3 linked regions of the Homo sapiens genome follow. The protein of the gene in region 1 purifies or fractionates together with the protein of each later gene. This does not show direct contact. Each region holds a gene or a part of one and is shown in the gene's direction. Other genes may lie near its edges. The genes, in order: ZNF333, MTPAP and POGK.

What was found.
Region 2: the proteins of ZNF333 (region 1) and MTPAP purify together in Homo sapiens (affinity purification with mass spectrometry; one large-scale study listed by BioGRID and IntAct). This does not show direct contact.
Region 3: the proteins of ZNF333 (region 1) and POGK purify together in Homo sapiens (affinity purification with mass spectrometry; one large-scale study listed by BioGRID and IntAct). This does not show direct contact.

What each region holds. Positions count from the first base shown.
Region 1 is NC_000019.10:14,696,537-14,700,188, forward strand, and holds part of ZNF333 (zinc finger protein 333), read left to right. Parts: intron 1-2,661; exon of another isoform or gene 2,662-2,662; coding exon 2,663-2,745; intron 2,746-3,652. UniProt on the Homo sapiens protein: May be involved in transcriptional regulation.
Region 2 is NC_000010.11:30,314,649-30,318,300, reverse strand, and holds part of MTPAP (poly(A) RNA polymerase, mitochondrial precursor), read left to right. Parts: intron 1-2,090; coding exon 2,091-2,183; intron 2,184-2,264; coding exon 2,265-2,338; intron 2,339-3,652. UniProt on the Homo sapiens protein: Polymerase that creates the 3' poly(A) tail of mitochondrial transcripts. Can use all four nucleotides, but has higher activity with ATP and UTP (in vitro). Plays a role in replication-dependent histone mRNA degradation.
Region 3 is NC_000001.11:166,842,422-166,846,073, forward strand, and holds part of POGK (pogo transposable element with KRAB domain), read left to right. Parts: intron 1-3,652.

The sequences.
Region 1 (3,652 bases):
CTGGAGGCTGGGAAGTCTAAGGCTGAGGGGCTGCATCTGGTAAGGGCCTTCTTGCAGCATCATAACATGGTGGACGAGATCATGTTGCAAGAGAACAAGAGAGGCCCAGACTGGTTTTTACAGCAAGGCCACTCTTGAGATAACTAACCCCCTTCTGAAGTAATCACAGGGCAGATTCCTCGTGACCTAATCACCTTTTTTTTTTTTTTTTTTTTTTTTTGGGACAGAGTCTCGCCCTGTCACCCAGGCTGGAGTGCAGTGGTACGATCTCGGCTCACTGCAACCTCTGCGTCCTGGGTTCAAGCGATTCTCCTGCCTGAGTCTCCTGAGTAGCTGGGACTACAGGTGCACACCACCACACCCGGCTAATTTTTGTATTTTTAGTAGAGATGGGGTTTCACTGTGTTGGTCAGGCTGGTCGAGAACTCCTCATCTCGTGGTCCACCCACCTCAGCCTCACAAAATGCTGGGATTACAGGCGTGAGCCATTGTGCCCGGCCACCTAATCACCTTTTAAAGTTCCAGCTCTCAATACTGTTGTATGGGAATTGCTTCCAACCCATGAACTGTGGAGGACACACTTAAACTACAGCAGTATCTGTCTTCTTTCACTTAGCTTTATGTTTTCCAGATCCATCCATGTTGTAGCATGAATCAGAACTTAATTCCTTTTTTAAGGCTGAATAATATACATTGTATGGATAAGCTATATTTTGATTATTTGTTCATCAGTTGATAGACAGTTGGATTGTTTCTACTTTTTAGCTATTGTGAATAATGTTGCTGTGAATGTTTGTGTACAATATTTCTTTTTTCTTTTCTTTTTTTTTTTTTTTTTTTTTTGAGATAGGGTCTTGTTCTGTCGCCCAGGCTGGAGTGCAGTGGTGCAATCATAGGTCACTGCAGCCTCAGCCTTTTGGGCTCAAGCAATCCTCCCACCTCAGTCTCTTGAATAGCTGGGACCACAGGTGCATGCCCTCATGCCTGGCTAATTTTAAATTTTTTTCTAGAGACCATTCTTCCTATGTTGCCCAGGCTGGTCTTGAACTCCTGGGCTTGGGTGATCCTCCCACCTTGGCCTCCCAGAGTGGTGGGATTACAGGCGTGCGCCACCGTGCCTGGCCTTGTGTACAAGATTTATGTAGACATGTACTTAATTCTCTTAGGTATATACTGAGGAGCAGAATTGCTGGCTCATATGGTAATGCTATGCTTAACTTCTTGAGCAACTGTCGTACCACTTTCCAACACAGGTACACCATTTTACATTCCCACCAGCGGAGATGAGAGTTTTGATTTATCCACATTCTCGCCCATACTTGTCATCCAATTCCTCTTTAAATTTAACCTTTTTATGTATGTTCTTTGTCTAGTTCTTTCTTACTCTTTTTTCTAATAACATCTGCTTTCTGGAAATAGTCTCAGTCCTCATAGAATTCTTAGCTAGGAAATTGCCTCTCATTTTCCCCTCATTCCTATGACTGCCAGAGTCCACACATAGCCCTACATACAGATGCTGTCTTCCCTTTCAGGATCTTCCCAAGTCTAAGGTCAGTATTAAAAGCTGGGCTGGGCATGGTGGCTCATGCCTGCAGTCCCGGCACTTTGGGTGGATCACTTCAGGTCAGGAGTTCGAGACCAGCCTGGCCCAACATGGTGAAACCCTGTCTCTACTAAAAATACAAAAATTAGCCTGACATGGTGGTGCGCGCCTGTAATCCCAGCTACTCAGGAGGTTGAGACACTAGAATCACTTGAACCTGGGAGGCGGAGGTTGCAGTGAGCCGAGATCATGCCATTGTACTCCAGCCTGGGCGACAGAGTGAGACTCCGTCTCAAAAAAAAAAAAAAAAAAAAAATTAGCTGGGCATGGTGGTGCATGCCTGTAATCCCAGCTACTTGGGAGGCTGAGGCACAAGAATTGCTTGAACCTGGGAGGTGGAGGTTGCAGTGAGCCAAGATCGCACCACTGCACTCCAGCCTGGGTGACAGAGTGAGACCCTATCTCAAAAATAAAAAGTAAAGAAAACATGTGGCTCATGCCTGTAATCCCAGCACTTTGGGAGGCTGAGGTGGGTGGATCACAAGGTCAGGAGTTCAAGACCAGCCTGGCCAAGATGGTGAAATCCTGTCTCTACTAAAAATACAAAAAAAATTAGCCAGACGTGGTGGCGGGTACCTGTAATCCCAACTACTTGGGAGGCTGAGGCAGAGAATTGCTTGAACTCAGGAGGCAGAGGTTGCAGTGAGCCAAGATTGCGCCACTGCACTCCAGCCTGGGCGAAAGAGCAAGACTCTGTCTCAAAAAAAACAAAAAACAAAAAACAAAAAACATGTATGTGTGTACACACACACAAATATAGATATATATATATATATATATATATATATATATATATACACACATATATATTTTCAATTTTATGCCACTATTTCTTTTTGAAAGGAGTTTATTTTTTCCCAATTCATTTCAGACTGGAAATCTCAACTTGAATATATGTATTCGGTATTAAAATTTGAATATTTATATTCAACATTAAAAGAAAAAGCCTATGTGTGTATAGTGTGTATATATATTCACATATATATGTGAATATATATTTTCAATTAATGTCACTATTTCTTTCTGAAAGGAGTTCATTTTTTCTCCCATTCATTTCAGCCTGGGAATCTCAACTTAAACCCGAAGAGTTGCCTTCTATGCAGGATCTTTTGGAAGAAGCATCCTCCAGGGACATGCAAATGGTAAGATGCACGGGGTTTTCCCCGGCTCCCAGCATGGGAGAAGTTGAGGAACACGTGAGGTGGAAATACAGGACCAGAGCCAGGGAGATGTTAGCAGCATGGGTGTCTCTTGGAAGGGAAACAGTGTCTGAGGGGAGTGCCTGTGACTTCTGAATTTGGGCAAACCCAGACTGTTGCTCAAGACTTTTTTTTTTTTTGAGACAGAGTCTTGTTCTGTCACCCAGGCTGGAGTGCAGTGGCATGATCTCGGCTCATTTCAGCCTCCACCTCCCAGGATCGAGTGATTTTCCTGCTTCAGCCTCCCGAGTAGTTGGGACTGCAGGCGTGCACCACCACGTCTGGCTAATTTTTGTATTTTTTGGTAGAGACAGGGTTTCACTGTGTTGGCCAGGCTGGTCTCGAACTCCTGGCCTCAAGTGATCTGCCTGCCTCAAGATTCTTTTTTTCTAGAAGGTTTCCTGAAGGAAACATTTTAATAAATGTGAGTCAGACATTGAGCGTGCGAAATACGACTTCCTCCTCAGCAACTGTCAGAAAAACCCCTCCTGGTAGAGAAGCCCCATTGTGAATAGGAGGCAGCCCTGTGGTAGAGCTGGCAACACACTCGACGAACTCCAGCTGTCTAAACAAGGCATGGCTTGAAAATGCTGAGAATATGCTCCCGGTGGGGAGGACCCCTGGGCACTGGCACAGATATTGGCGAGCTTTCCACCATCATTCACCTCTTTTTTTGGTTTTTAAAAGACAGGGTCTTGCTCTGCCACACAGGCTGGAATGCAGTGGCATGTTCATGGCTCACTGCAGCCTCAAACTCCTGGGCTCAAGCGATCCTTCTACCTCAGCCTCCCGAGTACCTGGGACCACAGGCCTGAGTCACCATGCCCAGCTAATTTTTTTCTTTTTCTTT
Region 2 (3,652 bases), on another chromosome or scaffold:
AACCTAGAATAATTTTTGAGAAATTATGCAGGTAACCAGGTCTTGACAAAAAAATGACAAAAAACACAAAAAATGGGAGATAAATTTATAGGAGGCTTATTTATCTCTCTGGTGATTATAGGCATTTAAAGTCAAATATCAGGGCCGGGCACGGTGGCTCACGCCTGTAATCCTAGCATTTTGGGAGGCCGAGGCGAGTGGATCACTTAAGGTCAGGAGTTTGAGACCAGCCTGGCCAATATAGTGAAACCCTGTCTCTAACTAAAAATATAAAAATTAGCCGGGTGTGGTGGTGTTCGCCTGTAGTTCCGGCTACTCAGGAGGCTGGGGCAGGAGAATCACTTGAAGCCGGGACGCGGAAGTTGCAGTGAGCCAAGGTCACGCCGCCACTGCACTTCAGCCTGGGTGACAGAGCCAGATTCCATCTCAAAAAAAAAATTAAAATATCAGCAGTCATCCAGATTATTGATTATATACCTGCTATATGCTAGATGCTCATTGGGGGCAGGTCGGTGGTGGGGAGTTGGGCAATAATGAATAGGACAGTGGCCTTTGTAATTCCTGACTGGGGCAGAGGAGTGGACAGCATACAAACAGTCACAATGCAGTCAGATAAGTCAAATGGTGAATGGAACAAAAAGGATGGAAAACCAGTTTGGAATTATGAAATGCTTTCAGATAGGAAGTAGCCATTGATGAGATTTCTGAAGAGTGGGAATTTGCTCTTGAAAACAGCATAGTATCTGTTGCAGATAGTGTGGGCCAGGGATTTCATGGTGGTTGTATATTTATGAAAATGATTACCTCTTAAGATATAAATACTAGTAGGAAAGGTGAATATCTGAGTCTAACGTGCTGTTATTGAGTTTGTTTTGCTGAATTACTGAATTCCAGTTAGTCTAGAGTGCTACATTTTAGAAATTACCTGAAGCTTTTTTAGTTAGCATTCAGTTTGTGTCGTGTATGAAGATGATAAGAATGGAATTGGAGATGTAAATTAAGTATTGACTAGAGGTAGTGCTGAAATTTGGTTTGGTGAAAGATGGGGGAACTCCCTACATTTCCATCTACTGTTAGAAAACTGATTACCTCAAAAATTGATTAGGAATCATTGGGTTGTTGAAAGACAATAATTCTAGTATGCTAAATTAAATGTAATGTTAATTTCACTGTGGCATAACTAGTCTCAAATCTTTTTTTAAAATATAACTCCATTAAAAGAAGATAAAAAGATTTGAGATTAGTTATGCCATAGTGAAATTAACATCATTAAATCATAGACAAGAAATTATAGATTAAATCGTTATTTAATCATTCAGTCATAATTATTCAATCATTTATAAAATCTGTGATTTAAATAAAGAATAGAGTAGAAATTTACTTAAATTTGTTTTGTTTTGTTTTGTTTTGTTTTTTGAGATGGAGTCTTGCTCTCTTGCCCAGGCAACAGTGATGTGATCTCAGCTCATTGCAACCTCCGCCTCCTGGGTTCAAGCGATTCTCGTGCCTCAGCCTCTTCAGTAGCTAGGATTACAGGAGCAAGCCACCATGCCTGGCTAATTTTTGTATTTTTAGTAGAGATGGGGTTTCACCATATTGGCCAGGCTGGTCTCGAACTCCTGACCTCAGGTGATCTACCCGCCTCAGCCTTCCAAAGTTCTGGGATTACAGGTGTGAGCCACCGCGCCTGGCCTTAAATTTATTTAAATCATAGATTTGTATTCTGAGGTAGGGAATATCTTTGAAATATGTGAAATAGGCTGGGTGCGGTGGCTCACGCCTGTAATCCCCTCACTTTGGGAGGATGAGGTGGGTGGATCACCTGAGGTCAGGAGTTCGAGACCAGCCTGGCCAACATGGTAAAACCCCATCCCTATTAAAAATACAAAAATGAGCTGAGCGTGGGGGCATGTGCCTATAATCCCAGCTACCCGGGAGGCTGAGGCAGGAGAATTGCTGGAACCTGGGAGGTGGAGGCTGCATTGAGCTGAGATCATGCCGCTACACTCCAGCCTGGATGACAGAGTGAGACTCCATCTCAGGCAAAGAAAAAAAAAAAACACGTGAAATATTTTTTGTTTGTGTTTAAGATGCAGAAGATAAATGTGTAATAGAAGGCAACAACTGCACATTTGTTCGTGACTTGAGTAGAATTAAACCTTCACAGAACACAGAAACATTAGGTAAGTGTCTTTCTGTTTACTTGATCCTTTCTGGATTGAAACAGGCTTTCCTCTGATTGTCCTTGTTTTATTTTCTTACAGAATTACTACTGAAGGAATTTTTTGAGTATTTTGGCAATTTTGCTTTCGATAAAAATTCCATAAATATTCGACAGGTAAATAATGTTTTACTATTTAGTTATTAGTATCTGGTCTTCCACTGTACTAATATTTAATTAACTGTTTTCAAAACACTCTAATAAATGTTATTTATTTCTTTTGTGTAGTAATTTGTAGTAACAAGGAGGTTGATGTCCAGAGAAGTTACATGACTTGACTAAGATCAGTCATCCCTTTATGCCAAATAGTAAAAGCCAGCTCTTTAGCATCTGCCTTGTTATTATGCCATGGGACTTCTGTCCTCACTTAGTGTAATACTGTATCCCTCATGATGTGGAATACATTCCAGAAAGTTTCCTGAAAACTATTATTTACATACAGCTGTTTTTAAACTGGATTTGTGTCTATGGAATAAACTTAAGTCCCAAAGATAGATTTCAGTGATTCCCTCAATTTGAGCCCTTAGGATTTAGGTGTTTTTTTGTTTTGTTTTGTTTTGTTTTGTTTTTTTTTTTTGAGCAAATGAACTTACGATTTGGATTTCTGAGCAGCTGGGATGAAAGACATTTTTTCTTTTCAAAAAGAAACTCAGGCAGAAGTCTAGACAAAATTTGTTTGCAAGTGGGAGATAACTTGGGATAGCCCTCTGTTTGGGTTTATTCTGTTTAGCATTTGGCTACTTGATTACAAACCTTACAAGATTGGCTTCATAAAACACAAACCCAGATATACTTTCTCCTTATTTCTTCACCTCTCCGTTTTTCATCCTTCCCTCTTACCTGCTCATGGACTCTTTGTTAAAATAAAAGATTGGGGAGAGGAGAGAGAAAGGATTCATTCGGAAAGCTTTGCAAATGCTATCTAGAAGGAAAAAGTCATAAGCATACAAAGTTCGTCACCTTTTTTGTACTCCAAAGCTCAGAGATGCCAAGCATGAAATAAGTTAGGGAATATAACAGCTGCTGCTCACATCAGGGAATTTTGACCATTGGCTTTGTAATAGTTAATTAAGTAAATTTATGGTATCATTTGAAAGAGGAAAAGATATATAGACTAATGGCTTATGTTAGTCATATGATTCATAGCTTTAGCTTTTCTTTTTCTTTTCTCTTCTTTTTTTTTTTTTTTTTTTTTGTTTTTGTTTTTTGAGACAGAGTCTCACTGTATTGCCCAGGCTGGAGTGCAGTGGCATGATCTTGGCTCACTGCAGCCTCCGCCTCCTGGGTTCAAGTGATTCTCCTGCCTCAGCCTCCTAAGTAGCTGGGATTACAGGCATGCGCCACAACACCTGGCTAGTTTTGTATTTTTAGTAGAGATGGGATTTCACCATGTTGGTCAGGCCTGTCTTGAACTCCTGACCTCAGGTGTTC
Region 3 (3,652 bases), on another chromosome or scaffold:
CAGTGCTGGGCGTAAAGAGAGACTCTTTTCCTGATGGAATTTCCAGTCTTGTGAGCAAGGCAGGAAAGTAAACATAAGTAATAGTAAGCACAGTGTGCAGAGTGCAGTGGTGGAAGTCTGCAAGGATGCACCAGGAGCCAAGATGAGGGGATGCCTCATTCAGGCTGAGAACTCCGGGGCTTCCTGGACAAGGCCTAATCTTGAGCAGTGAGCAATTTTGCCCCCACCCCTGGACATTTGGCAACATCTAGAAACACTACCCCCTTTCCCCACCCCTGGATATTTGGCAATATCTGGAAACACTTTTGTTGGTCTGACTTGGTGGGGGTGCGTTGGGGACTGGGAGATCCTCCTGGCATCTAGTGGATAGAAGCCAGGGGAGCTGCTAGATATCTACAGTGCACAGGATGCCCCCCCACCACCACACACACACACACATACACACACAACAAAGAGGTAACTGGCCCAAAATGTCAGTTGTGCTGAGGTTGAGAAACCCTGCTCTAGAGCATTAGAAGAAAAGAATCTGTTTTTAAAATATGTATTTTGGTTATAGAGAATTATGTTAGGGTGATCAGTGAAAGCTTTTCAAGCATAAGAACTATGATAATATATTAGGATAAAATTCCATAGAATTGAAATAGAAATACAATTTTAAGTAGAAAAAATAAAAAATGTGCTTTGAACTGAGTCTTAGTCATTATGGAATCAGCCAAGGGAAGGGAAGGGGGTTGCATTCCAGGCAAGAGGACAGCACAGGCAAAAGCACTGAGGAGAGGAGCTTGGGTGCAGAGTTAGGAGCAGCTCCTGCAGCTGGAACCTGAAACTCATGGCAGGGAGTGGAAGGGGATCAGGTATAGGAGGCCAGGCCAGGGGCCAGAGCCAGCCAGGAGGACATGCAGTGCTACGCCAGCGAGTTTGAGCTTTCTCCTTAGCTCTGTGGAATGAGGCCTTAGCCCATCTTTCTAAGGGAGGCCTCAGGCTCTCTACAGCCACCATGCTAAGGCCTGAGTGGCCTGCTAAGAAAGCAAAGCTTTGGCATCAGACTTTCTAGCTCTGTGACCTTGGACAAGTTACTTAACCACTCTGTTTCCTTACCCATAAAAGTGAGGTAGTGATCCCCATGTCCCTAGTTTAGCGGATTCAGTGAGAGAATATATTTATATGATTGAGTGTCCTATACAGTGCTTGGCCCATAGCAGGCACTCCATCAGTGGATCAGTACAAACTACCCCAACCCCTTCCCCCGAGATCCCTGCGTCTTTGCTGGGTGGCTGCAAGGCTTTAGCGAGGCTGTGCAAGGTGTAAGCACTTTACAACATTTACCCTTTGAGATAGCATTGGAATGCCAACTTCCTGAGCAGAGCAAGGCAGTGCACACAAGCTAGAGGAAGAACACTTATCCAGTGAGCCCTTGATCTTCTGAGGAAAGGGAGGAGGGCAGGGACTGAAGGTCCCTACCTGCAAGGCCAAGGAGGGGTGTCTGGAGGTGGTACACAGACTGCCTGACTTCTCAGTTTTGCCCGGGGCCGGCCCTGTTTACCTTCTGCTATGTTGAGCCAGATAAAAGGCCTCTGTGGAGCGAGGGGAGGCCTGCGCAGCAGGGCCTGGCTGAAGGATCGCTCCATTCTCACAGAGGCTTGCTGTGAGGAGAATGTCTAAGCCACTACACTGTGCCTCTGGAGCATAATGTGGGCTTGTTTGAAGATCCTCCGTGGCTCAGTCATTAATAGGAAGAGATGAATCCTGCACCAGCCCCCAGCTTTCTTCCTGCAGCTTCAGGGCTCCTGGTACCTGATGTTTTTACCAGGCCTAGAATATGTTACCCCCCCTAAGAGTATTGATGGCCCCTCTGAAATGACAGGCATAGACAGTCCTGTTCCCATTTTATCAGCAAAGGGAAAGGGACTATAAATAGGTATGACCTAGATCTGGAACTTCCCAGGGAGAAAAAAAGGCCAAAGAGACAGTTCTTTAAAAGCCTGGGAATTGGGAAAGGAGTAGGGTGGAAAATTCCTGGGCTGACTGGCTTTCCAGGGTGAGGAAGTCTGAGGAAAGCCTGAAGACGAATCCATTTTACCTCCTCATATTTCACACTTAGGGATGTTTGTCCATTCTTACTCCAAAGAGTAGGTTTGGTTTTATGACAGATAAAATTTAATGATTCTTTGAAACAGTTCCAAGTAGAACAAGAGAAGGGAAATCCAGAGATTTGCCTAGATCGTATATTCAAAAGCACATTTTTCAGTGACTACTAGCTACAGGAAGTGTCCTCGGCTTAGGGAAGCAAAAAGGAGTAAGTACAGGTCCTGCTTTCAACAAGCTCAGATTCTAGTGGAGGGAGCAGACAAGTCAACCAAAAGAATTCTGCAGTGTGATGAGTGCCCCGGGAGTGTGGAGCCCAGGACATTTCAGGGACATGTGGGTGTGCTCACAGCGTGGCACAGAGTGGGCTTCCTCGGGAGCAGGGATTTTGGGCTGAGTCCTGGAAGATGGGTGGGTGTCAGCCAGACCAAGAAAGGGGAGGCCCTCCAAGGCCAGGGGAGAATATGGGCCAAGGTGTGGGGGCGTTGGGGAATGGTTGTTCAGGGAACTGCACACAGCTGAGTACAAGTGGAGCACAGAGCTGGGGAGAGTTGAGGGTTAGTCATCAGGGAGGCAGCTGTGCTCGGTATTGCTGGATCCTTGGGGTCAGGCGGTGGTGGCCCCAAAACGCAACCCCACCATTTATTGGCTATGACATTAGCCTGGAAATGAGACCTCTCCAAGCCCATATTCTCCTTGATTAAGTAGGGGCATGGTGGCTTGTGCCTCTAATCCCAGCTACTAGGGAGGCTGAGGCAGGAGAATGGCTTGAACTCAGGAGGCAGAGGTTGCAGTGAGCCAAGATCGTGCCACTGCACTCCAGCCTGGGCAACAGAGCAAGACTCCATCTCAAAAAAAAAAAAAAAAAATAGGCGTATCTACTCCTCCACAGGCCCATTGCAGGGAATAAATGAAGCAGTTACAGGCCCTTTCCTAGTACGTGCTTCCTATGTATGAGGTGCTGTGGAGGTGGGGAGAGAACAAGGGGGCTTCCTTGGGTCAGGGAGGAAAGGCCAATGTATGTAAGTGACTGTTGGCCTGACCCCTGAAGTGGCTGCAGGCTATATAGCATATGGACACTAATTTTCTAAGCTAAGGAAAAACAGTATCATAATCACCCAGACCCAAGATACAGCTTTGGGAAATAGCTTTGAAGGCAAGAATACAAAATAACCAGCCTGAAACAAGCCATCCAGTGCCTTCTTATCACTAAATAGGATGAGCTTTGGAGTAGGATTTTTAATGACTGTAATAAGAAATACAGTTAAAAACAAAAAGAGGAGGTTGGTTTGGGTGGCTTGGCTGCCTTGGGCTACTGAGGAGCCCCCTGGTGCTGGGCCAGGAAGCAGAGGAACAGGGGAGGGATGCAGTCCTTTGGGCTTTCTGCCTACCTGGTCCAGGATCAAAGTGAATGAGTTTGCTCTGGCATCTCATTACATATATTAAGCTGTAATTAGCCCTTCTTTCTTCCTCTTCATGCTCTTGTGGATTGGAAAGGCCAAATAGGGCCCCTTCTCTCAGTGGCTCCTCCCTGGGCAGCTGTGGGTTCCAAGTCTAACACTTTGGT